Linked DNA regions of Homo sapiens: region 1 is linked to region 2. The links come from fine-mapping of genetic effects on gene expression. A gene starts in region 2. The other region holds a variant in brackets. All regions are shown on one strand. Distances are from middle to middle.

Region 1 (11,424 bases), 100 kb after region 2:
ATACTAAGACTGTGTTTACCCTTTTCATTCTCATTCTCTCATGAGCATAGGTGGAGTTTTCTAGAGGTTGCATACCATGCCATACTGATTGAATGTACAAGTTATATGAAACTCTAGCAGTTCTGTCAAAAGACAAAGTTACAACAAATTTAGTTTAAAGATCTCAGTCAGCTTTATTGTGATTCTAGAATCAGGCAATACTTCATTCCATAAAGTAGAGTGTGTGTTCTAATGAGTTGAGCAGATGGTTGGTTTTATAGACAGAAAGGGCTGAAGAAAGCAGATTGGTCATTTCAAAGTGAATTCTCTTGTAAGGTCTGGATGGGGAGACAGGACAATAGAAAGACTGGTTAATATCAGGTTACTTCAGATTAGGGATTAAAACAGAGGAAACTTCATTATCATGCCCATTGAATACTTCATTATCATGTGCATTGAATATTGAAAATTGTCCTGTTTGGGATATTAGGCTGTTATCTGTCTCTCCTGATTTTTTAGAAAGTCAAGATAACAACTCAGTTTGGGTTTGGTGAGCATGGGTGACTCCATTTTGATTTTTAGTCTGGTCTTCTTTTGGAGCCTAGTGTAGGAGTTTTGTTCAAAACAGTGGCCTATAATTTTGGCTTCATAAGCCAGACATTAAAGAGATTTGCAAAGATTATAAAACAGTGCTTCTCTTGTCACTAAGATGTTTTTTAGTTTGGAAATAGTTATTTTCATAAAATGTTACATTAACATTTAATGAATTTATTCTTAAAATAATAAATATTTAAAAAAGTTATATTTTAACTTCTAATATGATAACTAGGGCTAGATATTAAAGCTCCTTGAATTACTCGATACTCTTTTTAAAGTGTAAAGTGGTCCTGAGATGAAAGTGTCTGAGAACTTATGATCCTAATTCTTTATCCTCATTTCATAGATGAGAATACTATGAGCCCAGAGAGGTTAGTTTAGTTAAGTACACTCATCCAGTTTTTGGCTTAGCTGATTCTTGGATCACTGACATCTGGCTTTTTTTGATTTTTTTTTTTTTAAGTTTTTTTTTTTTTTTTTTTTTTTTGAGACAGAGTCTTGCTGTGTCAGCTAGGCTCGGGGGCTGGAGTGCAGTGGTGCAGTCATGGCTCACTGCAGCCTTCACTGCCTGGGCTCAAGTGATCCTCCCACCTCAGCCTCCTGAGTACCTGGGACTACAGGCACGTGCCACCATGCCTGGCTAATTTTTGTGTTTTTTGTAGAGAAGGGTATTTTTTGTTGCCCAGGCTGGTCTCAAACTCTTGGGCTTAAGTGATCAGCTAGCCTTGACCTCCCAAAATGTTGGGATGAGCCACCTTGCCTGGCCTGATATATTTTATTAGCAGTTTTGCTGTTTAGATATTCTTCAACCTAATACCAACCATCAGCTCCTTTAACAGTTTCTTCATTTGATATTTTAACTAACTTTATTAAGTACATGAGTAAATTAGGAATATTGACCTACTTTTTCAACAACAATAAAATGGTGTTTTTTTAAACTCAAAAAATGTCTAGAAAAAGGGAATTGATATATGAAACAGTGTAACCTTAGCGTCAGAAAGAATAATGTTGAGGGCAAAGAAATAGGTTCTTGTGTTTTAGAGACTCTTTTACTGTCTTTTTTCCTTTTTTTCCCCCCTTCTTCAACAACAAAACATTGGTTACAAGCTTCCCTGGGCATTTATGGCAGCCCACCTACAGAAGAACAAGTGTTCTGTTTTAAAATTTTAAAAATTTTATCAAGAGGATAATAATTACACATATGCTGCTTTTTTGATGGATATGTATTATTTCTCAGGTTGAGCCTCATGGTGGGGGTGGTAGATTCTAACCCCCTCCTTTTAATTGTTGAATGAATTTAAAACTATGTCATAAAGAAACTGCGTAATTTTAATTCAAAGAAAGATAATTAGGATATACATAATATCCCTCTTCCTTTGAGGGGCTTCCTTCGTGTAGAAGACATGGACTGAGTGATTTTTGCTCAATAAAGGAAAACTTTCTAGTAGTAAAGAAATACAAAAATAGAATCAGCTTGTTTGGAAGTAGTGAGTTCCCTTTCTTATGAGGCATTAAAGCATAGACCAGATTATTGACTGTTAGTAGGAGTACTAGCAAATGAATCAGTAGATGGAGGGTTAATTGGGTTACATGACCTTTCAGATTGCTTTTTTTTTTGAGGTGGAGTCTCGCTTGTCACCAGGCTAGAGTGCAGTGGTGCAATCTCAGCTCACTGCCACCTCCGCCTCCTGGGTTCAAGCGATTCTCATGCCTTTGCCTCCCGAGTAGCTGGGATTACAGGCACGTGCCACCACACCTAATTTTTTGTATTTTTAGTAGAGACGGGGTTTCATCATGTTGGCCAGGGTGGTCTTGATCTACTGACCTCATGATTTGCCTGCCTTGGCCTCCCAAAGTGCTGGGACTACAGGCATGATCCACCGTGCCCAGCCTTCAAATTCTTTTATTAAGTGTTTGAGTATACTTGTTCAAAATAACTTTTTAAACAAGTATAAAAAGGCAGTTGGTTTAGCAGATGTATTCTACTTTTATATCAGCTGCTCTGTTAACCTAAAGATTTTATGGATCTGTGGTCTCACCATGATCACTGACATCAATTCTCCTTGAAGGAGGATGAGTTTTGTTTGTTCATTTTATTGCAAACCATTTGAAGAGATGATAGATTGGTAGCAGAAATTTGGCAGAGAAAAGGATGATAAACATTAGAAAGGAGGATAAAGCCCACTGGAAGACATAAATGAATTGATGATATTTTGGTGTATATTTTCTCATTGCTTTATGATTATAAATATTTTCTGCTGCTTTTTGCCACTATCTATTTTTCATGTCTTCCAATAAAGTATTCCATGGCCAAAATTTGTGTGAAATTCTCTTCGGTTGTTGCTGGTTTTACAAGTTATAGGGTTCTTTGGAATATAATTACTGAAATGATGACTACACTAAAACATATTTCTTCTTAATTTAACAAAGTATTTAGTGGGAGGAAGGCTCTAGCTTTTCTTATTTTCTTTAATGTTTTTTAGGCATGCTAGAGGAAAATAGTGTTCTTACTATTAGTTTTGAACATTTTTTATGACTATAGAGTTGAAAGCCCAAAACACTAGAAGTAAATGGATCATTGCAAAATATTTGTTTTGTTTTCATTTGTGAGTGGGGCATTCGTGTGTCACTGTGTCTATGCTTCTATTTTTCTCTGTATATAGTTTATATCCTTAAGACTTTCAGAAAGAAATTGAGATGTTATGTTGTTTTATTGTATATGCATGTACATGCATACACACACACACACACACACACACACACACAGTTTTATTTGTTCATCATATATTTAAGGCCTGACATAGGTCTTACAAAGTTCAATTACTATAGGGCTTAAGTAGGAAATGAATGGTAAAATGAGCCAATTTGAAGCAATAAATACTGATTGATAGATTATCACCTTCTTCCAAATAAGATATGTGGCATCGTAGAATCTTGCTCTTAGATACACAGATATGTGTGATGTTTAAATAGTTGAGAAATTCAACCAGAAATGAATGAAAGGGTTTTCCCGTTATCCTGTCATACGCAAATTACCAGATCATTCAGTTCTTCAATTTATCAATTCATGTATTTATTCATTTAACTAATATTTGTTAGTTTTATACTATGTGTAAAGCCCTATTTTAGACACTGAATACAGTGCCAGACAGTAATTTTCCTGCACTCATAGTTTATACTCTAATAGAGAATGTAGAATTGAGCTTTAAATTTCCTATTCAATAAGTATTTTTAGTAATATGTGAAGTACAAGAGCTTCTGAAGACTTATTGCGCCACTCTCTCCCTATTCATCCATTTACCAGTTGTTACTGAATGCTTACTCTATGTACTAGAAATGCAGAGATGAGTAAGATACAACCTGGCCCTGAAAAAAATTCAGTCTATTTGGAGTTATAGACAGGCAGTAACTAGCTATTATATAGTGTGATGATGGCTATGATATAATTACAAATAATATTCTGCAAGAACAGTAATTTTCTCTAGCTGTGAGGTATGCAAGAAGCTATCATAGAGAACTAATATTTGAGGATGAGTAGAAATAGTCGGGTATAGGGAGATCAAAGGAGAAGTTACTCCTATTCCCCAAATAGAGGGTTCTTCATGAACACACAGAAGTAGGCAAGGTCTGTTTGGAGAATGGTGAGATATTGTGTAGTTTGGGTAAAACACTGGGTATGTCATGGAGGGAGAGGTAAAAGAAGAAGCTACAACGTAGGTTCAGGCCGAATTGTGAAAAGTTTTATATACAAGGTTAAAGTTGGCTTTTTATTTTACAGTTAGTTGGGGACCTGTGGAAGATTTTTCAGCAGGCAAACATACTTAGTCTGCAGTTTACAAAGATAGTTGATAGAATACAGGATGAAGTAGTGAGAAGTTGAGGCTATGGAAAGGCAGGTATACCAGTTTGAAAACTTCATAATAGATATGAATGAAATAATGAGGGTCTCTTATAGGGTAGTAGTAGTAGTGACTTTAGAACACAGGGATGGATTAAAAATCAAATTCAGAGGTATTTTTGTTTTGCTTCATTTTTTTGAGACAGGGTCTTGCTCTGTCACCCATGCTGGAGTGCAGTGACATGATCACAGCTCACTGCAGCTAGGGCTACAGATGTGTGCCACCATGGCTGGCCAATTTTTTATTTTTATTTTTATTTTTGGTAGAGACAAGGTCTCATTATGTTGCCCAGGCTGGTCTTAAAATCCTGAGCTCAAGCGATTCTTCCATCTCAGTCTCCCAAATTGCTAGGATTACAAGCATGAGCCACCATGCCTGGTCCAGAGTTAGAACTGACAGGATTTAGTGAGTGATCCATATGGAGAGAGGGCGTTGAAAAAGATTTTGAAGTTTTGTGTTTAGTGTCTGCATAATTAAATGCTGGTACTATTAACTTCAAAAGGAAAAGCAATATGGTTGAGGGAAGCAATGAATTTGGTTTTGTAATATTGAGGGCAGGAGTAAACCTAAGGGAATGTTGGAGGCATTTAAATTCTAAGTGGAGGAGATGCCTATTCAAGAGAAAGGAGGAGGAGTAGGGGGAAGAGATAGCTGTTCAGTGTGTCATTAAACCTCTCAAATCCTCAGTTTGTTATTTATCATATATTGGAGGTAGAATCAATAATTTTTCTGGTTTTGAAATAACCTGTGTTTTAGTTATCACAAATTCTAAATTAGTAGTACAAAAATTATAATAATTATAGTTTATATGTTATAGACTGATGATAATATTTATTGATTACTTCCTGTGAAGTTTAGGTAAAATGCTAAGCATTTTGCATTCATCATCCATTTAATTCTCCTAGCAATATGAGTTAAATATTATTACTATCTGGATTTTCAGAAAAGGGAAGATAACTTGACCAAGATTGTTACAGCAAATAAGTGGTGGATGGGTATTCAAACCCAGGACAATCTGACATTAAAACTCAAGCTTTTAACCACTATATTATTTGCCTGTCTTGTAGAACATAAGAGTTGTAATGAATCTAAAACATCATCTAGCCCTTTCCTGTAATCAGATTTATGTCATAGCTAAGGTCTGTAATTAATGTCAAAATTAGCTATCCAATTTACTTAATAAGAAGCTTACTCCACAGCCATTCATTACTGCTGTTTTCCTTGTGGCAGATACTTTTTTTTTTTTTTTTTTTTTTGTCGACTCACCTCTTTACCGTGTGATGTGAGTAAATTCTGTATAGTCTAGGCCACTCATGATTATCCCATTTTTCTTGCTAGTCATTAATTAAGACCTGAACATAGGACTGATATCTGACCAATAACTCATTTGTGGCCAATGAGACATGAGGGGAGGTTTGGTGGAGGGGCTTCTTGGAAAGGTAACACCTCCTCTCCCCTCATTTTTGGATGTTTCTATCTAGATGGGTTCTTGGAATTGTGAGAGCTATCTTGGAATTATTTGGGGCCTAGGTCAGGATAAAACCAAAACACTGGATGGCACAGTGAAAAGATGGTGAGAACTTGGATCCTTAATGATCTTGTTGAACTTCTAAATTACCCATTCCTAAAGCTATTGTGCCTCAGGACTAGGTCTTACATGAAATTAGAGGGAATTTATTAGGCTGTGTGAAACAAGGACTTTTTAAGGCTACTAACAGTTTTTTTCTTTTAAACGATACTTATCACTGAAAGAAACCTAACTGGGATCTGCAGTGTTTATCTTTGTCTGAAGTAAATAGAAAGGCACTGTAGGGCTTGCATTACTGTTGAGACACAATTAAAACAGGAATAGAAGACAATTTTTGTGTCACTGCACCTAATTTAATTGGTGTAGAAGTTGGAGATGATCATGCTCTAGAAAACAGATCTTATATATGTTAAAGGTAGCAAAGTGTCATTGAGGAAATGAGTCTGATTATTCTGACAGTTTCTGTAGGTAAAAGGAATAGAAAGTAAGTGTTCAGATTAGGTTAGGAAATAGAAATGGATTTAGTTTGTAGACAGTTAACCTACGTTTCAGGGTCCTTCCAAGACTCTGGAAGAATCTCAAGCAATGTGTTAACATAATATTTTGGGTGAGGCGGGGTAAGATTTGCAAAAGTTAGGTATTTAATCCATTAAAACTGCTATTCCTTTTCACTTAGACTTTCCCTGTATCATACCCTCATATTGGGTGGCATTAGAGTGGCCTGAGCTAAGGGAAAATTGAGTAGAGGATACATTTAGAGATAGTATATGGTTAGCAGTTGTTTATGTGTCCAGTTATTTTGTAGGCATTACTTCCAGGAATGTTATTACTGTCCACTGTGTCTACTTCCCTGGCCTTGTGATACATAGATGTAGTTTTGCAGGGCAGGTGAGCCCCAAAGTGGGGCTCAGCCCGTGAGGGTTCTTGGCTTTGCCCAGAAAAGAATTCAAGGGCAAGCCAGAGGTAGAAGAAAATAGATTTATTGAACAGGCAGTGTTACAGCTCTGGTGGTGTTATAGCTC[G/A]GTGACTGCTCCTGCAGAGCAGGGCTACCCCGTAGGCAGAGAGTAGCAGTTCAGGGCAGTTATTAATACCCTTTTTTAATAACATGCAGATTAAGGAGTGGTTTATGCAGAAATTTCTAGGGAAGGGATAGTAACTTTTGGGTCATTGGGTCATTGCCATGGAAAGTGGTGGTAACTCCTGGGTGTTCTCATAGCAGTGTTGACATGGCACACTGGTGGGTGTGTCTGATGGAAAGCTTCTTCTGCCTAATCATCTTTCAGCTAGTCCTCAATTTAATTGGGTGTCTGAACCTGTCTCTAGAGTCAAGTCCTGCCTCCTAACTCAGTAGGGGCAAGGGTCTTAGAGCATTATAAATATGTTCTTTGTGGTAGAGGTAGAGGAAGAGAAACATCGTTTAAGTGTTTAGAGTGAGAAACTAGTCTGGAAAATTTTTCTAAATCTTGGAACTTGATTGTGGTTTTCGTAAATTTGATAATATTCCTAAGAATGTATATGACATTATCAGTAATAAGTTATAAAGAAGTTATAAAGCTGATATAAACTCTCTACACTGCCTTTTTTTTTTTTTTTTTTTAAGATGGAGTCTCCTCTGTCACCCAGGCTGGAGTGCAGGGGTGTGATCTCTGCTCACTGCAACCTCTGCCTCCCAGGTTCAGGTGATTCTTTTGCCTCAGCCTCCTGAGCAGCTGAGACTACAGGCACGCACCATCATGCCTAACAAATTTTTGTATTTTTAGTAGAGATGGGGTTTCACCATGTTGGCCGGGCTGGTCACGAACTGCTGACCTCAAGTGATCCGCCCGCCTCAGCCTCCCAAAGTGCTGGGATTACAGGTGTGAGACACCGTGCCTGGCCTACACTGTCAGTACTAAAAATTGATCAAACACAGTAGTAAAAAGATAAAATTATCTTTCTATTCTCTTAATGTTGCAAAATTGTTATATGAAGAGGAAATCAAGAAATGCAGCCAGAAATGTAAGAAAATAAGAGCATTATAGAGATAGATTAGGCAATTAATAAAGATATGCTCTTCTTTTTGAAATTCATGTTTTTGGCATTTGTTAGCCTTTTAAAGTTAGTGTTTAGTTGTAATTTATTTTCTCATTCCAGATATTTACTTCACACCTAATTTTGTATTCCTTTCCTTAAATAGAGTCCCACAAATTGTAAAAAAGGAATTAGCTCACCAAAAACACCAAATGCAGTATTTTTAATATTTACCTTTCAGGTTCGGTTGCTGGATCTAGATATGCCTCTTTTTTTTATTTCCTCATTTTTTCTTCTAAAAAGAAAATTATGTATTTTAATGTCAGATTGCTTTTGATTAAAATGTTTCATATTAAAATTGTATACCTGAAAAATATTATTCAATAACACACTTCAAAAAGTTGACAGTTAAAAAAAAAAGAATAGCCCTTGTTACTTTTCTTATCTAATCACAGAGTTTGTGTAGTGAATGTAAAAAGAAAAAAAAATTGTTACAAGTTTGGAGCAAAGAGCTCTGTGTTTAAAAGGAATCTCCTTCTTTTTTTGTGTGTTTTTCCTTTTGTACCAATGGGGAACCTAAATCTGTTTTAGTTGCACAGACACAATGGACAAATAGTCATTTTGTATTTGCCAAGTGTGATACCTTCCTTTGTTTATTTGCTATTAAACTGTTGAGAGTTTTATGGCTAGTGGATAATCATTGTTCAAACTTTTTAATAACTACAGTGAATTGTGTTAATATAAAATTATGCTGTACAGTATTTTCTTGTTATGTTGATGGTCAAAGTGAACATCAGATATTAAAAATTTAGATGAGTAAAATATTAAACAGCCTATTTTTGTCATGTAACAAAAGACCATGAGATCCATGGAGGAAAAAAGGACAGCTTTATTTTTCTATAGAAAACAATAGTAGGTTGGGGATATGCAGCCTGTGGTGTAAAATGAAAATGAGGTCCTAGTTGGGGGTTGGAGAGTTAGAAATTATAAAGGCAAAAATTGTAGGACAGGGGAGGTGGGGTCAAGGAAGTAAGGAATAAAGTCTTGATTAGATGACCTTTAATCCCCAAATCACCAGTGTGTCTTAGTTGGTTGTTTCCAGGTGGTTGGTCAGTTGGCACCAGGTGGTCTTTTGGTGATCATTTGGGGAATTTCCAAATGATCACCAAAAGGAACTGTTCTTTGACTTGGTGGCAGAAAAACAGGTTTTGCAACACTTTTAAGGACACAGGGTATAATTGCTCCCTTACCCTGTCATTGCCTCTTGGTTCTGCTTTTACCTTTGAGCCACAAGGAGTCTATCTTGTCAATTAACTGGGGGCATAATTTGACAGTCCAATATGTATAATGATGACAACAGCTCCACTAACATGAATGCCATTCTTAGAATTTCTCATAGATCCTGGCATTTGGTACATCTGAGTTGAATAAATAAAAGTCTGGGGAATGAATGAAAGAAAAATTAGTTCAATGTCCTATAACTTTAAGTTAATTTATTAGAATTGCCACCAACAAAATTAGCTCTAGCATTTAGATACTAAAAGGAATTTGTTAAGCAAACTTACTTTTGCAGTTATCTCTCCATGGACAGTCAGAACAGGTATTCTTCATTTCTAAAACATACTGCTGTTCTTTAAGACCATTCTTTGGCACTGTGGAACTTTAGTCATTTTCTAGACATTTGTTAGCCACTAAATGTCTCATACCAGGGACTCATATTTGTAAATAATAGTGTCTGCCTTTGAGAAGCTCATAACTGGGTAGTCAACGAACAGTCACAGTGCAGATCTGGAATCAGTGTTGAGGGAGTACAAAATCCTTTGGGTGTTGTAATCAGAGTCAAGAAAAGCTTCACAGTGGCGATAGGCTTAAGCTTAGTTGAAGGAAGAGGAAGCTTTCAAGTGGAGGTGGCAGAGAAAGCATTCTGACATGTGAAAAGGCAGGAAAGCCTGCGTGCAGCATATTTATTAGTTTTGTCTCCCTTGGAGCATTTTGTAAATTTTATTGAGTATTCAGAGTTGACAGAAAGGCAGTCAGGGATCATTTCATGGAGCGCCATGCTGAGAAGATTAGAGGATTTTAAGCAAGTGATGTGGTCAAATTTGCAGTTTTGAAAGAGTACTTAACATTATCCTGGTTATATGTTTAGCAGATTTGGCAAGAACTGATTGTTATGATTTGATAGTCATTTAATACAAAAAGGAACCTGGAATGCTCTTCGTCTTTAGTGAACATTATGTAACCTATCTTCATGGCCTTCTTAGTGAGGTAAACATTTTTTTTTTGAAATTGTAAAGATTTAAACTTTTTGAAGGGTAAACTTTCTCAGATAATTATGCTTAGTTGTGAGCAGAAGTAAAATAATGTTTTTACAGGCCAGAGCATTTAATTACCAGTGCAAGACTGTCCAGACTACTCTTTCCATTTACCATGATAACTGGTAAAATGTGAGATGGTGATTGCTCCATCATCTTGGGTACTGAGATGAAAAGATGTGGGGTGGAGTCCTCAAATGACTTATGATGAACAGCTAGTGTAAGCAAGAAAATGACCTTATTGTTTTAAGCCACTGATATTTTGCAGTTCTTACCTGATAAATGGTACATGAACCTAACGTGTTTTTATTGATGCAACCATATATCAAAACAGTATTTTTGAAGGAATCATTGTAGAAGTACAGACATTTATAGAAAATTTTTTACCTCTCTGATTTAGAGAAATTTTTGAAAGCACAATAACTTAGGTAACATAGTAACATAAAAGTTCTCATAATATGTGTAAACCAAAATGAGTTACTGCAACTAAGAGTCATTTTGAAAGAGACTAAAATTGACTTATCTTTAATTTGTTAAATAAAAGTGTGATATTAAATCCATTACAAAAATGGGTAAAAATTGAAGACAACTGCAATTTTATAGGTTACTGAACTTTATATTTTACATGATATTACAGTCATCCTTCAGTATACATGGGCGGGTGGTTCCAGGACCCAAGTCTACAAATATGTTAAGTCCCACAGTGGGTGCTGTGAAACCTACATAAAGGAAAAGTTGGCTCTCTGTATGCGCAAGTTTCGTATCCTGTGAATTCTGTATTTTCAATCCACATTTGGTTGAAAAATTTCAGCCTGTAGGTGGACTTGCGCAGTTCAAACCCACTTCATTCAAGGGTCAACTGTATTTTATAGTCAGTATTTGCATAATAAGGAAATCTAAATGGTACTTTGATATTCAAAGTTTCATAATAATCTATATGTATGTTTTAAAGTGAGTGTGGTGATATTAATACTTAAATGAAAAATATGAGTTAATAAAGCAATTTATAATTTTATATCAATTGAGCATATTGTTTTTGAAATTTAATTTAGAATAATCATCTATACATAATCTATAGATACTTTAGTCTTTCTAT
Region 2 (11,729 bases):
TTATGCTTCCTATAAGAAGTTTATTGTCCCTGCAATATGGGGGACAATGGAAAAATGTCTAATTATCTTACCTTGTTCCTATCTTTTACGTGTATAAGCACCAGTATCAGGTGTTTAGTCTAGTGGCTCAATCATTCCAAGTAATAGTACTATAGTCTAAGAAGAAAGAATTTAAGACCTATGAATACAGTTTCTATGAATGAAGATAAATTCCAAAGAGGAAAGGAAGACTTTCCAGAATTGATTCATTTGATTCTGTTGACAGAAAACAACATCAACCCTTTCTTTTATGAAAGCGGCTGACATTTAAAGAATATGTGGTGATGATCTCCTCTTCCCATTCGACACATGTTCAGTAGTTATCAATAATACTAGTTACTAAGATATGTTTTAGTAATTATTGTATTAATAAAGTATGAATACTGTTAACAGTTTAGGGTTCCTGTTTAATTAGAACCAAAAAATTTCTTTGTTTAAAGCCCTCTGTTTAGCCAAGAAATCAACTTGAGTTATTAGCAATAAACTCTGACACCTCAGGGTTGGAACCTGCCAAATTTTTCTACTTTATCTAGTCAGATGCTTTGCTTAGTAGGCTTGCTTTGTGTCTTATATTTCTGTCTGGGTATTAATATAAGTGCCATTAGAATACTTAGACTTGCTATATAGAACCTGCTGATTTTAACTATAATCTTTAGCTGATAAACTTTTCATTTTCATTTTTTAAATGAAACAGGAATATCCAACCATAAGATCTGCAACTAAATTTTTATTATTACACCTTTTTCTTGGAAGAAAATCAGCATCTGAAATATATAATGTATGACTTCAAGTGGAGCACTGTAATCCACAAGCAGACTCAGATTTGGGCACTTCAGGTGAGTCACATATGGAACACAGCATTCTTTGCAAAAATTAATCTTTTGGCCCCATTCAATGTGGTTATTTTTGGCCAGGCACAGTGGCTCACGCCTGTAATCCCAGCACTTTGGGAGGCCAAGACTGGTGGATTACCTGAGGTCAGGAGTTCAAGGCCATCCTGGCCAGCATGGCAAAACCCTGTCTCTACTAAAAATACAAAAATTAGCCGGGCATGGTGGCGTGCGCCTGTAATCCCAGCTACTTGGGAACAAAGCTTGTTTGTTTGTTTGAGCAGAGTCTCCCACTGTCACCCAGGCTGGAGTGCAGTGGTGTGATCTCTGCTGACTGCAACCTCCGTCTCCCATGGGCAAGCAATTCTCGTGCCTCAGCCTCCTCAGTAGCTGGGATTACAGGTGTGCACCACCATGCCCAGCTAGTTTTTCTGTTTTTAGTAGAAATGGGGTTTCACCATGTTGGCCTCAAGTGATCCGCCTGCCTTCGCCTCCCAAAGTGAAGCTACTGTACTCAGTCCCCATTCAAAGTGTTTTATTCATTAAAGATAATGAATAATAAATGAATTAATACTATCTAAAATGTATTGAGTACTTATTATGGGCCAGACACTATGCTAGACACTTTATCTCATCTTATTTTCACAATGCTACACCATAAATACTACTATTATCCCCATTTTACAGATAAGACAATGTCATCTCAGAAAAGTTAGGTCAATTACCTAAGATCACGCAGTAAGCTAGGATTCAAACCTAAATCCAGCTGAATTCTGAGCTCCTGCTCTTATCTGCCTTGTAGAGACTAATTATTAGGAACACGTTCTAATACAGCACTGTCCAACAGGGCTTTCTGCAATGATGGAAATGTCCTTTATCTGTGCTAATATGGTAGCCACTACACCCATGGCTATTGAGCACTTGAAATGTGGCTAATGTACCCAATACTGAAGTTTTAATTTTTTTGAAATTTTAATTAATTTTTTTTTGAGACGGAGTCTTGCTCTGTCTCCCAGACAGGAGCGCAATGGCGTGATCTCTGCTCACTGCAAGCTCCGCCTCCCAGGTTCACACCATTCTCCTGCCTCAGCCTCCCGAGTAGCTGGGACTACAGGAGCCCGCCACCACGCCTGGCTAATTTTTTGTATTTTTAGTAGAGATGGGGTTTCACCATGTTAGCCAGGATGGTCTCGATCTCCGGACCTCATGATCCACCCGCCTCGGCCTCCCAAAGTGCTGGGATTACAGGCGTGAGCCACCATGCCCGGCTTTTTTATTTTTATTTTTTTTTTGAGATAGGGTCTCGCTCTGTTGCCCAGGCTGGAGTGCAGCTGCGTCATCTTGGCTCACTCCAACGCCCACCTCCAGAGCCCAAGCGATCCTCCCACTTCAGTCTCCTGAGTAGCTGGGCTTACAGGCGTGCATCACCACACACAGCTGAGTTTCAAATTTTTGTTTTGTAGAGACAAAGTCTGCCTATATTGCCCAGGCTGATCCTGGACTCCTGGGCTCAAGTGATCTTCCCACCTTGATCTCCCAAAGTTCTGGGATTACAGGTGTGAGCCACCAAGCCTAGCCTGAAGTTTTAATTTTAATTAATTTAAATTTAAATAACCATATATGGTTAGTAGTTAATATATTGAACAGTGCATGAATGTGCTGCTTTAGCTTATGATTTTTTTTTTTTTTTGAGACGGAGTCTTGCTCTATTGCCCAGGCTGGAGTGCAATGGCACGATTTCCTCTTACCACAACCTCCGCCTGCTGGGTTCAAGCGATTCTCCTGCCTCAGCCTCCCGAGTAGCTAGGATTACAGGCATGCGCCACCATGCCCAGCTAATTTTTTGTATTTTTAGTAGAGATGGGGTTTCACCATGTTGGCCAGGCTGGTCTCGAACTCCTGACCTCGTGATCCGCCCGCCTCAGCCTCCCAAAGTGCTGAGATTACAGGCATGAGCCACTGCACCCAGCCTAGCTTATGATTTAAGAGGAGGAGGTAAAAGACATTTCTTGTTTAGTTAGGAGGCAAAAGACATTCTAGTTGTTATGCTGAGGAAGTTTAATAAATTATTTAGAGTGGAAGTTATATTTAAAAGCACCGACACAGGTTATCTAAAATCATTCATCCTATCGAAAATATAGTTCACAAGGATTTATAGTGCTCCTTTGCCACAATACACTCTGAAAGAGTTGCTTGTTTTGAAAGTAAGTGATTTTGTAGTTACTTTATTTTAGGGCCAGATCTCTACTCATCCTCTTAAGCTGGTGAAAAATTCTTTCCAGGAAAGTTTCCACCGAAGTTGTTTTTATTGGCAGTAGTTCAGGTCTCAGAATACAGAAAGTTAAACCAGCCTCCTAGATTTATTGTTGTTATCCTTAGTGCTGAGATGAAAGCATAACACTTGTAAGTTCTCGACTGTGCTTAGCTTTAAAACCCATCTTAACCTTCTATAATAGGAAAAGAGAGCTTACTTCTTCTATCCATATTATGACCAAGGTCTAATGCATATAACAATTAAATAATACCATGTTGCAGTGTAAATTAGCCTGTTTCTTTATTTATCGTCCTTTTGGTAGCTGCAGTTATTTTTTTAATTATTATTTTCATAAACTTTCTGAGAAAACTACACACTCATTATTACCACAACCATCTTTTTGTTCCTAGTGGCTTTTGAGTCATAAAACAGAATTCTCCCAGCTTATTTAAAAGCCACTAGAAGAAACTGTGTTCAGAGGCAGACCCACCAGAGCTTTGACTGCAGCTTAAATACATCATAAATCCTTTTTACTAAACATTTTATAATCATCCTGGGTAATTCACAAGCAATGCATTTACAATAGTCAAAATATTCTTGGAAGACAGTGTCTAAAAACAAAAATGTATTCCTTCTATATATAATATGATGGAGGCACAGAAGGGCCTATACTGAACTTGAGAGAATGAGACCAGAAAAGCATCTACTCTTCTGATTCTCAGCCAATATCTTGACCACATATTCATTCAACACAGAGTTTTGAGGCACTGGGTATATAAGAACAAACAAAATTAGAGTTCCTATACTCACAGCATTTAGAGATGAGCAGAGAAGACAACTTAATACAGTTAAGATGTAATTCCTACGATGATACAGGAAATATAGTGTGCTGTGGGAATCTACAAGGCTTAGAGGTGAGAGAGAACACAAGACAAATAAATCCAGTATAAATTTAGCAAATATGGAAGGTGGAGGGAAGAGGGGAGATGAAACTGGACAAGGAGGTAAGCAGAGACTGATTGGTTCATGGAGCATGCTAAACTTGTTAAGGAGTTTGGACTTTATTCTTAGTGCAATGTAAAGTCATTTTATAATTTTTTTAATTAATCATGCAATCCGATTTACATTTTTAGAAAGATCATACTAATTACACTGCGGAAACTGGATAATCGGTAACTGAACACTGTGACACCAGTTGGGAGATGAGTGGTGATGGCCTGGTCTAGAGTCTTGACTATGAGGATGGGGTACAGTGAAAAGATAAGAGAAACATTTAGGTTTTGTGCTAAAAAACATTTAGGCTTGGAGGAGGGGGTGTGTGGAGATGAGAGAGATGTGTCACTTGGCCTGGTCCTGTGTAATTTGACCAATTCTGGATACATCTGACCCAAATAAATATATTCAAAAAACTATTATATATACCCTTCTGGTGCTTTAGAGAAGCCAGATTGGAATCAGAATTGTAAGTAATCAGGATTTTTTGTTAATGGGAATTAATCAAAAGGAGAATTGAAACAAAAGAAAGAATGTGCATAGTATGAAGAGAGCTTATGGCAGGAACTCCAACATTTGAGTAGGAGGTGGGTCAAGGAAGTGGACCTAAAGAATGACCAAGATGTGACTGAAGAGTCCTAAGAAAAAAAAAAAAACAGGGTGGTTTTTAGTAACTATAGCTTATTAGTGTATTTCCAGAAGAATGGAGTGGTAAATACTGTTACATGGCACAAAGAGGTTAAGCTACGAGAATTGAAAATGTCAGCTGGGCGTGGTGCTCACACCTATAATCCCAGCACTTTGGGAGGCCAAAGTGGGAGTATCACCTGAGCTCGGGAGTTCGAGACCAGCCTGGCCAACATGGTGAAATCCCATCTCCACTAAAAATACCAACAAATTAGCTGGGTGTGGTGGTGGGTGCCTGTAATCCCGGCTGCTCTGGAGGCTGAGGCAGGAGAATCGCTTGAACCCGGGAGGTGGAGGCTGCAGTGAGCCGAGATGGCGCCACTGCACTCTAGCCTGGATGACAGAGCGAGACTCCATCTCAACAACAACAAAAAAGAATTGAAAATGTCTGTTGATTTAAGAGTGTTTTTTAAACTTTCTTTTCCTTAATGCCTGCTAAGGAGCCCTTTTAGACTCCATCTTCTCACCACCCTGCCAATCAAATTCCTCACCCATAAAACTTTTTATTATTCTTTCTTTTTCAACTGTAAATTGACAAATTATAGTTGTATATATTTAGGGGTACCAGATGTTATGATTTATGAAATGTGGAATAATTAAATGAAGCTAATTAATATCACCATAAAATTTTAATACCACAGAATATTCTCTGTTTATGTATTGTATTTGTGCTTTACACATAAAAAGAGTATTATATTTTTTTCACCTCACAAGAAGCAGTTTTTATCTGCTTTGAGAATGCATGATTTAACACACAGAGGACACTGGTGATCTTGGTAAAGGTAGTTTTGGTGGGCTGGGTGCGGTGGCTCACACCTGTAATCCCAGCACTTTGGGAGGCTGAGGCGGGCAGATCACGAGGTCAGGAGTTCGAGACCAGCCTGGCCAACATGGCGAAACCCTGTCTCTACTAAAAATACAAAAGTTAGCTGGGCATGGTGGTAGGCGCCTGTAATCCCAGCTACTCGGGAGGCTGAGGCGGAAGAATCACTTGAACTCTGGAGGCGGAGGTTGCAGTGAGCCGAGATTGCCATTGCACTCCAGCCTGGGCGACAAGAGCAAGACTCCATCTCAGAAAAAAAAAATAGTTTTGGTGGTAGTTCAGTGGAATGCTAGAAATAAGACATTGCAGTGGGCTGGGAAATAAATAGCAAGAAGTGTAAAAAAATAGAGATATGTAGAGTAGATTCAAGAAGTCTAGCTGTGAAGAGGATGAAAAGACAGGAAAATAAATGCAGCAGTTCATAAAGTGAAGGAAGAATACATTCAAATGCTGAAGGAAAGGTGTGAATAGAGGGGGAAAAGCTGACATAGGAGAGAGGGAAAAACGGAAAGAGGACCCTGACATAGCAGGAGAGGATGCTACTGAGAGACTAGGTCAAAGGGTTTGCCTTCTCTAAGGAGAAGGAACACTTTCTACTCTTCAGATTGAAGGGAAGGTTTGTATACTTGACTGCAGGCAGATGATGGCTCTCCTTCTCTGTGTAATGGGAGAGAGGTCATTTCCAAAGGGAGAGAGAAGTCCTCTTCTCTGTAAATACCATGTGCTACTCATGAATTGACACAGTACTGAGCTACTTAAAAATATTTAAATCTGCAAAGAACTCCCATAGCGTATGTGTATATGTATTTTTTTTTAAGAGATAGGGTCTTGTTTTGTTGCCCAGGCTGAAGTGCAGTGGACCAATCATAGCTCACTGTAACTTTGAACTCCTGGGCTCAAGTGATCCTTCTGCCTCATTCTGCCTCTACCTCCTGAGTAGCTAGGACTACAACCACATGCCACAAAGCCTGGCTAATGTTTAAATTTTTTGTAGAGATGGAGTCTCGCTATGTTGCCCAGGCTGATTTCCAGCTCCTGGCCTCAAGTGATTTTCCCGCCTCACCCACCCAAAGTGCTAGGATTACAGGCGTGAGCCACCGCACTCCATCTGCCCATAGTATATTGGTTTGTTTTTTTTTTTTTTGAGACGGAGTCTTACTCTATTGCCAGGCTGGAGTGCAGTGGCGCAATCTCAGCTTACCACAACCTCCGCTTCCTGGGTTCAAGCGATTCTCCTGCCTCAACCTCCCGAGTAGCTGGGACTACAGGCACGTGCCACCACGCCCAGATAATTTTTATATTTTTAGTAGTGACGGGGTTTCTCCATATTTGCCAGGATGGTCTCGATCTCTTGACCTCGTGATCCACCCACCTCAGCCTCTCAAAGTGCTGGGATTACAGGCATGAGCCCTACCGTGCCTGGCCGTATATTATATTAAATGGTTAGAAATAAAAATCATAAGATTAAGTAAGAAAATATAATCTTGTTGCAAAGAGAGCTTTCCTAAAGATACGTAAGGTTTTTTTTTTTTTTTTTTTTTTTTTTTTTTTTTTTTTTTCGAGGCAGAGTCTCGCTCTGTCGCTCAGGGTGGAGTGCAGTGGTGAGGTCTCAGCTTACTGCAACTTCCGCCTCCCGGGTTCAAGGGATTCTCCTGCCTCAGCCTACCAAGTAGCTGGGACTACAGGCGTGTGCCACCACACCTGGCTAATTTTTGTATTTTTAGTAGAGACAGGGTTTCACTATGTTGGCCAGGTTGGTCTCGAACTCCTGACTTTGTGATCCGCCCGCTTCAGCCTGCCAAAGTGCTGAGATTACAGGCGTGAGCCACCGCGCCTGGCCAAGATTCGTAAATTAAGATAATTCTTCATTAACCTCATTCACTTCACTTCTCCTATAGTGTCAATTGAAAGTGTCCCTCTGTCTTTCCCAAATTAATCCTTTCACTTGTAACTTGATCCCATTCCTTTCCTTCTCTTCTGGGAGACAAGACTTTTTCTTGAATCTTCAAATAGTTGCTTGCTTCCTGCCCCCAAATAGATATCTTGTATTCTTTAAAACAAACCCCAAACTTTCCCCCACCTTGCCACTCTCAATAATCTTGCTTCATGCCCCAAATGATGAAGGATTGGTCTACACTTGCAGTCTTTCCTCAGTTACTATTAAAGCATCTCTCTCAAACAGCTCAATGACTTTCTAATTATAAAATCCAACGACCTATTCTGATTTCAGCTTCCTCCTCTGACCATTGCAGCATTTTATGTCATTGATAACTTTCTCCTAAACAAAAATACTTCTTACCCTTTTATATGAAACTTCATCTGTTTTGGGTCTCACCTTGAAAGTCTTTCGGGCTTAATTCTCATAATTTTTTTTAAAGTCTTTCTACAATCTCCATGTAAACCACTGTTTCAAATTCGATAAAACTCAAACTCCATAAAATACCTCCTCCTGTCACTGGCACCATCTTCTTAATCACACATAAGGCTGTAAGTTTCAGGTTCAAACAAATCTACCAAATACAAACAGCCACATCGCCCGTCACTCTTCCACACTCACTGCCACCTGCTCAGCTTAGAACCCCGTTACCTCTCTCCTGAAGAACTGCAACACCCTTCTCACTGCATTCCTCACCCCAGGCTCTTCCAGGCACCACCCGCTAACAGGACGTCTGCTCAGGTCCGTTTGGGGTTTTGTCCTCCAAAGCAGAAACCTGGGACTGAGATTCCTGCCGTCTGTACTCCAGCTCACTATAGAGGGGGAACCCAGTAAGCTTGACCTCCGGGGCTCAGGCGCCTGAGAACACTGGGCTGCAGGTGGACCGCTCCCTTCTGGCCTTGCTGGCGAGAAAGCCCGGAAGGCCGGGAGTGGGGGGGAAGCGAGGCCCGGGCCAACAGCACCAAAGACGCTCCTAGAGCCCAGATCGGAGTCGGGGGCCCCAGCTATTCAGCCTACTCCCGGGTTTTGGAGCTGTCCCCAGTCCACAGATTTCCCGCCCCTCACACTCACCCCAACACCTGTGCCAGTCAGTGATTCGGCGCCGGATCCTCTCCTACCGAAGCTGGAGAAGCCGAGAAGGCCGCGAGGACCCGCAGCTGGAGTGCCCAGGAAATTGCCTGATTAACAGCTTCAAAGACACCGACTCTGTCTACCGTATTAGAAATTTTAAATATGCAGGAAGACCGTAAATGAGAGGAAAGACGTCTCTTGAGGCTTAGTATCTAAATCTTCTACATAATCCAGGGCCTAGAAAAATGGTGGGTTTCTCTCCATCTAGATTCAGGCGGTCATCTGCTGCCTAACGCAGTCTGGGGTCCCTCATGGTAGGGGAGGCGGGGTCAGGAATGGGCGGGGCATTCGCTGTTGGTGCCGACGGATAGAGCCAATGATTGTGGATGACAGCGGCACAGAATGGGCGGAGTCTGGAGGGGCGGGATTTGGAGAAGAGAAAGCGGTGATGCGAAGAGGGGGCGGGACCAGAGAGTGGATGGCAGAGGTGGGCTGTAGAGCCAAAGTGGGGTGGGAGCGCGAAGATGGCAGCTGCTGAGGAGGAGCCGAAGCCCAAAAAGCTGAAGGTGGAGGCGCCGCAAGCGCTGAGGTGAGCGCTGCCGGACTTGGGGAGGAGGGTGACGGCGCTGCAAGCAAGCCAGGGCCCACGTGGGGTTGCACGGCCCCGACGCTGGGTGGTGTCTCTCACTGCCAGCTTGGGGCCAACACGCAGGACCTCCCCCAGCTGCCCGCTTGGCCGCGACCCCTTGCCAGACGTTCTCTCCGTTTGGCTGAGTCCCCGCCTGTCTGGTGCAGCTCCGGCTCCAGCAGCCCTTCGCCAGTCGTGGCCCGCAGGGGGACCGAGCTGGCTGACCGCGCCACCTGCGAGCAAGCCCAGGCTGGGCTGGTGCGACCCCGGAGGGTCGGACCGGAGCAGCGTCTGTAGGCGGCCGCCTTCTCTTCCCGGGGGATGGCGGGAAAGAGGCTCGGCAACTGCTGTACACTGGGGCAAAGTCAGAATTCTTGGGGATTTTTCAGAGTGTTGCGGAAGGGCACGTTGACCTTCCTTTTCGTGCACATTCTGAAAGCCCGTACCTTTGAGGACCCTCTACCAGGGACCCAGACCCCTCCGATGCTTTGCAGGGGCAGCATTTGGATGAATGGATAGGAAAGGTTGATTTCTCTTTTTTATTTACACTTTTTGGCAGCAACGGGGACAGTGCTGCCCCTAACACCTGCCTCACATGTGATTGATGTTGCAACTTTTACTTATGAAGAGTCATTTGTTAAAATATCCCTTCCTAATAAGTATAAAGTGAAGCAGGCAGTCTTTGATGATTTGGAAATGTTCGCTGAAAGGCAGCGATTTTTTTTTCCATCTTAAAATAGACATATCAAACTGATTTAAAACTATTAGGACACTCCTGATTAAACAGGACATATCCCATTTCTTCCAGTATCACTCTTCTTCACCTCCAAAGGAAGGAATCACTCACAATTGAAAAGAAAAGGACACTTAGGGGCCTGGTGGTGTGTTCATGCTGCTTTGAATGGAGGGTGAACAAATCCTTGCCAGTTCCTTTAATGTATTCCTACTACCCTCAAAGGGTTAGTGTGCCTACCTTATACCAAGAACATAAACTTTAAAATAAAAACCCTCAGGATATTCTATTTTTATTTTAAATATTCCAACTATATGCAGAATAAAAAGCAACGGCTTTTGAATCAGACCTACCTGAGTTCAAGGCATGTGCTTTCCCTACTCTGCCCTTTATTAGAGTATTTCCTTATAAGGCACCTCCTTCGCCAAACTGGAAGACAGATGCAACTTTTCCCTACCATCCTACTGAACATATAACCCTTAGATTTCCTTAGATTTTTCCTTAATAAAAATTATTATATATAATGCTGATCCATTTTCACTGTGTTTTCCTATTTATTATCTTGTTGGACAGTTCTGTGATCAAAGGAAGGCAAGAATTATGCCTATTTTACAATTGAAGATATTGAAGCCCAAATAAAACAATTAGTACAGGAACAGAAATAGGAACTAGCTGAGCATGTTTTCTTATACCTGCAGTCCTGGTGCTTTGTGAGGCTGTGGTGAGAGCATTCCTTAGGCAACTAAAATTCACTTTATACAATATGAATTTAGTGCCACCTGTAGACATGAAGTTAAAAGATTAGACACTTGAGTACTGGGACAAATCTCTAATTTTGTGGGGAGACATTTTAGGATCGGCTATTATTACTTTTATTATATTAATTTGCTTTCAGACTCAAAGTGTGATAATGCATTGAGTATTTACACTGAATTTATGATGACTTGCTTGACAGGGGATTGCTACTGGTTTTGGTTAAGGAGAATGGATTATAAAGACTTTGCATAATTTAATGTGCAGCATCAGTGGGAACAAATAATGAGATATATTTGTAGATGTCAGGAAAAATATTTAGATTTAGGGATTTGTGAGAATTTGGTCAGCTCTGGGATAATAATTCTCCACCAGGGGAAATTTTGCCCTCCAGGGGACATTTGGCGTGGTCTAGAAAGATATTTTTGGTAGGGAGAGCTATTGGCACCTAGTGGATGGAATTCAGGGGTGCTGCTAAACATGCTACATAGGACAACCCCCACAACAAAGAATTATCTGGCCAAATACGTCAACGGTGTTGAGGTTGAGAAATCTGTTCTAGAGGGAGCATCTGACAAGACTAGTCTGCCTTTCTCAAATATCTATTATTTTTCTAGGCTCGGTTGCTTTTCAGCATATAACAGTTGCTTATAAAGAAAGAATCAGGCTCTGACATGTTTTCACGTGGGATTAGGGGAAAGAAGGGAACGTTAATTGAGTGCTAGACATTATACTATGTGCTCTATATATGTTATCTCTTTTAACCCTCCCAGTGACCTATGAGGTAGGAGCAATGATTCCTGTGTTACAGACGAGCTATTTTGTGATGAAAGAAGTGGAGAAACATTTTTGGGAACTGCTCCCTAGATGAAGGTGTTCCATGATGATCACTTATATTTAAGACAACTTAGTTTTCTTTTCTCTCCTTTGGAAATCTCATCCAAGTTCATTTCTTTAGCGATCGCCTCTTAAGAGGCTACAG

The links. PIP is the estimated chance that this variant, and not a neighbour inherited with it, causes the effect.
Region 1: its variant is fine-mapped to the expression of AP3M1 in whole blood (TOPMed, PIP 0.91).

What each region holds. Positions count from the first base shown.
Region 1 is chr10:74,246,186-74,257,609 of GRCh38, forward strand. All of the region lies in intron 3 of ADK (adenosine kinase), which reads left to right. LOC124902456 (a long non-coding RNA gene) reads left to right here. Exons shown (of 2, transcript XR_007062198.1): 2 at 1-8,692. Among named protein-coding and RNA genes, the nearest start is that of ADK, 100 kb to the left of the region's middle. The variant G/A (reference allele first, on the strand shown) is at 7,026.
Region 2 is chr10:74,142,122-74,153,850 of GRCh38, forward strand. It overlaps AP3M1 (adaptor related protein complex 3 subunit mu 1), which reads right to left and starts at 8,707. Exons shown (of 9, transcript NM_012095.6): 1 at 8,634-8,707. It overlaps ADK (adenosine kinase), which reads left to right and starts at 9,100. Exons shown (of 11, transcript NM_006721.4): 1 at 9,100-9,222. The coding sequence starts at 9,158. RefSeq lists enhancers at 8,631-8,860, 9,271-9,450.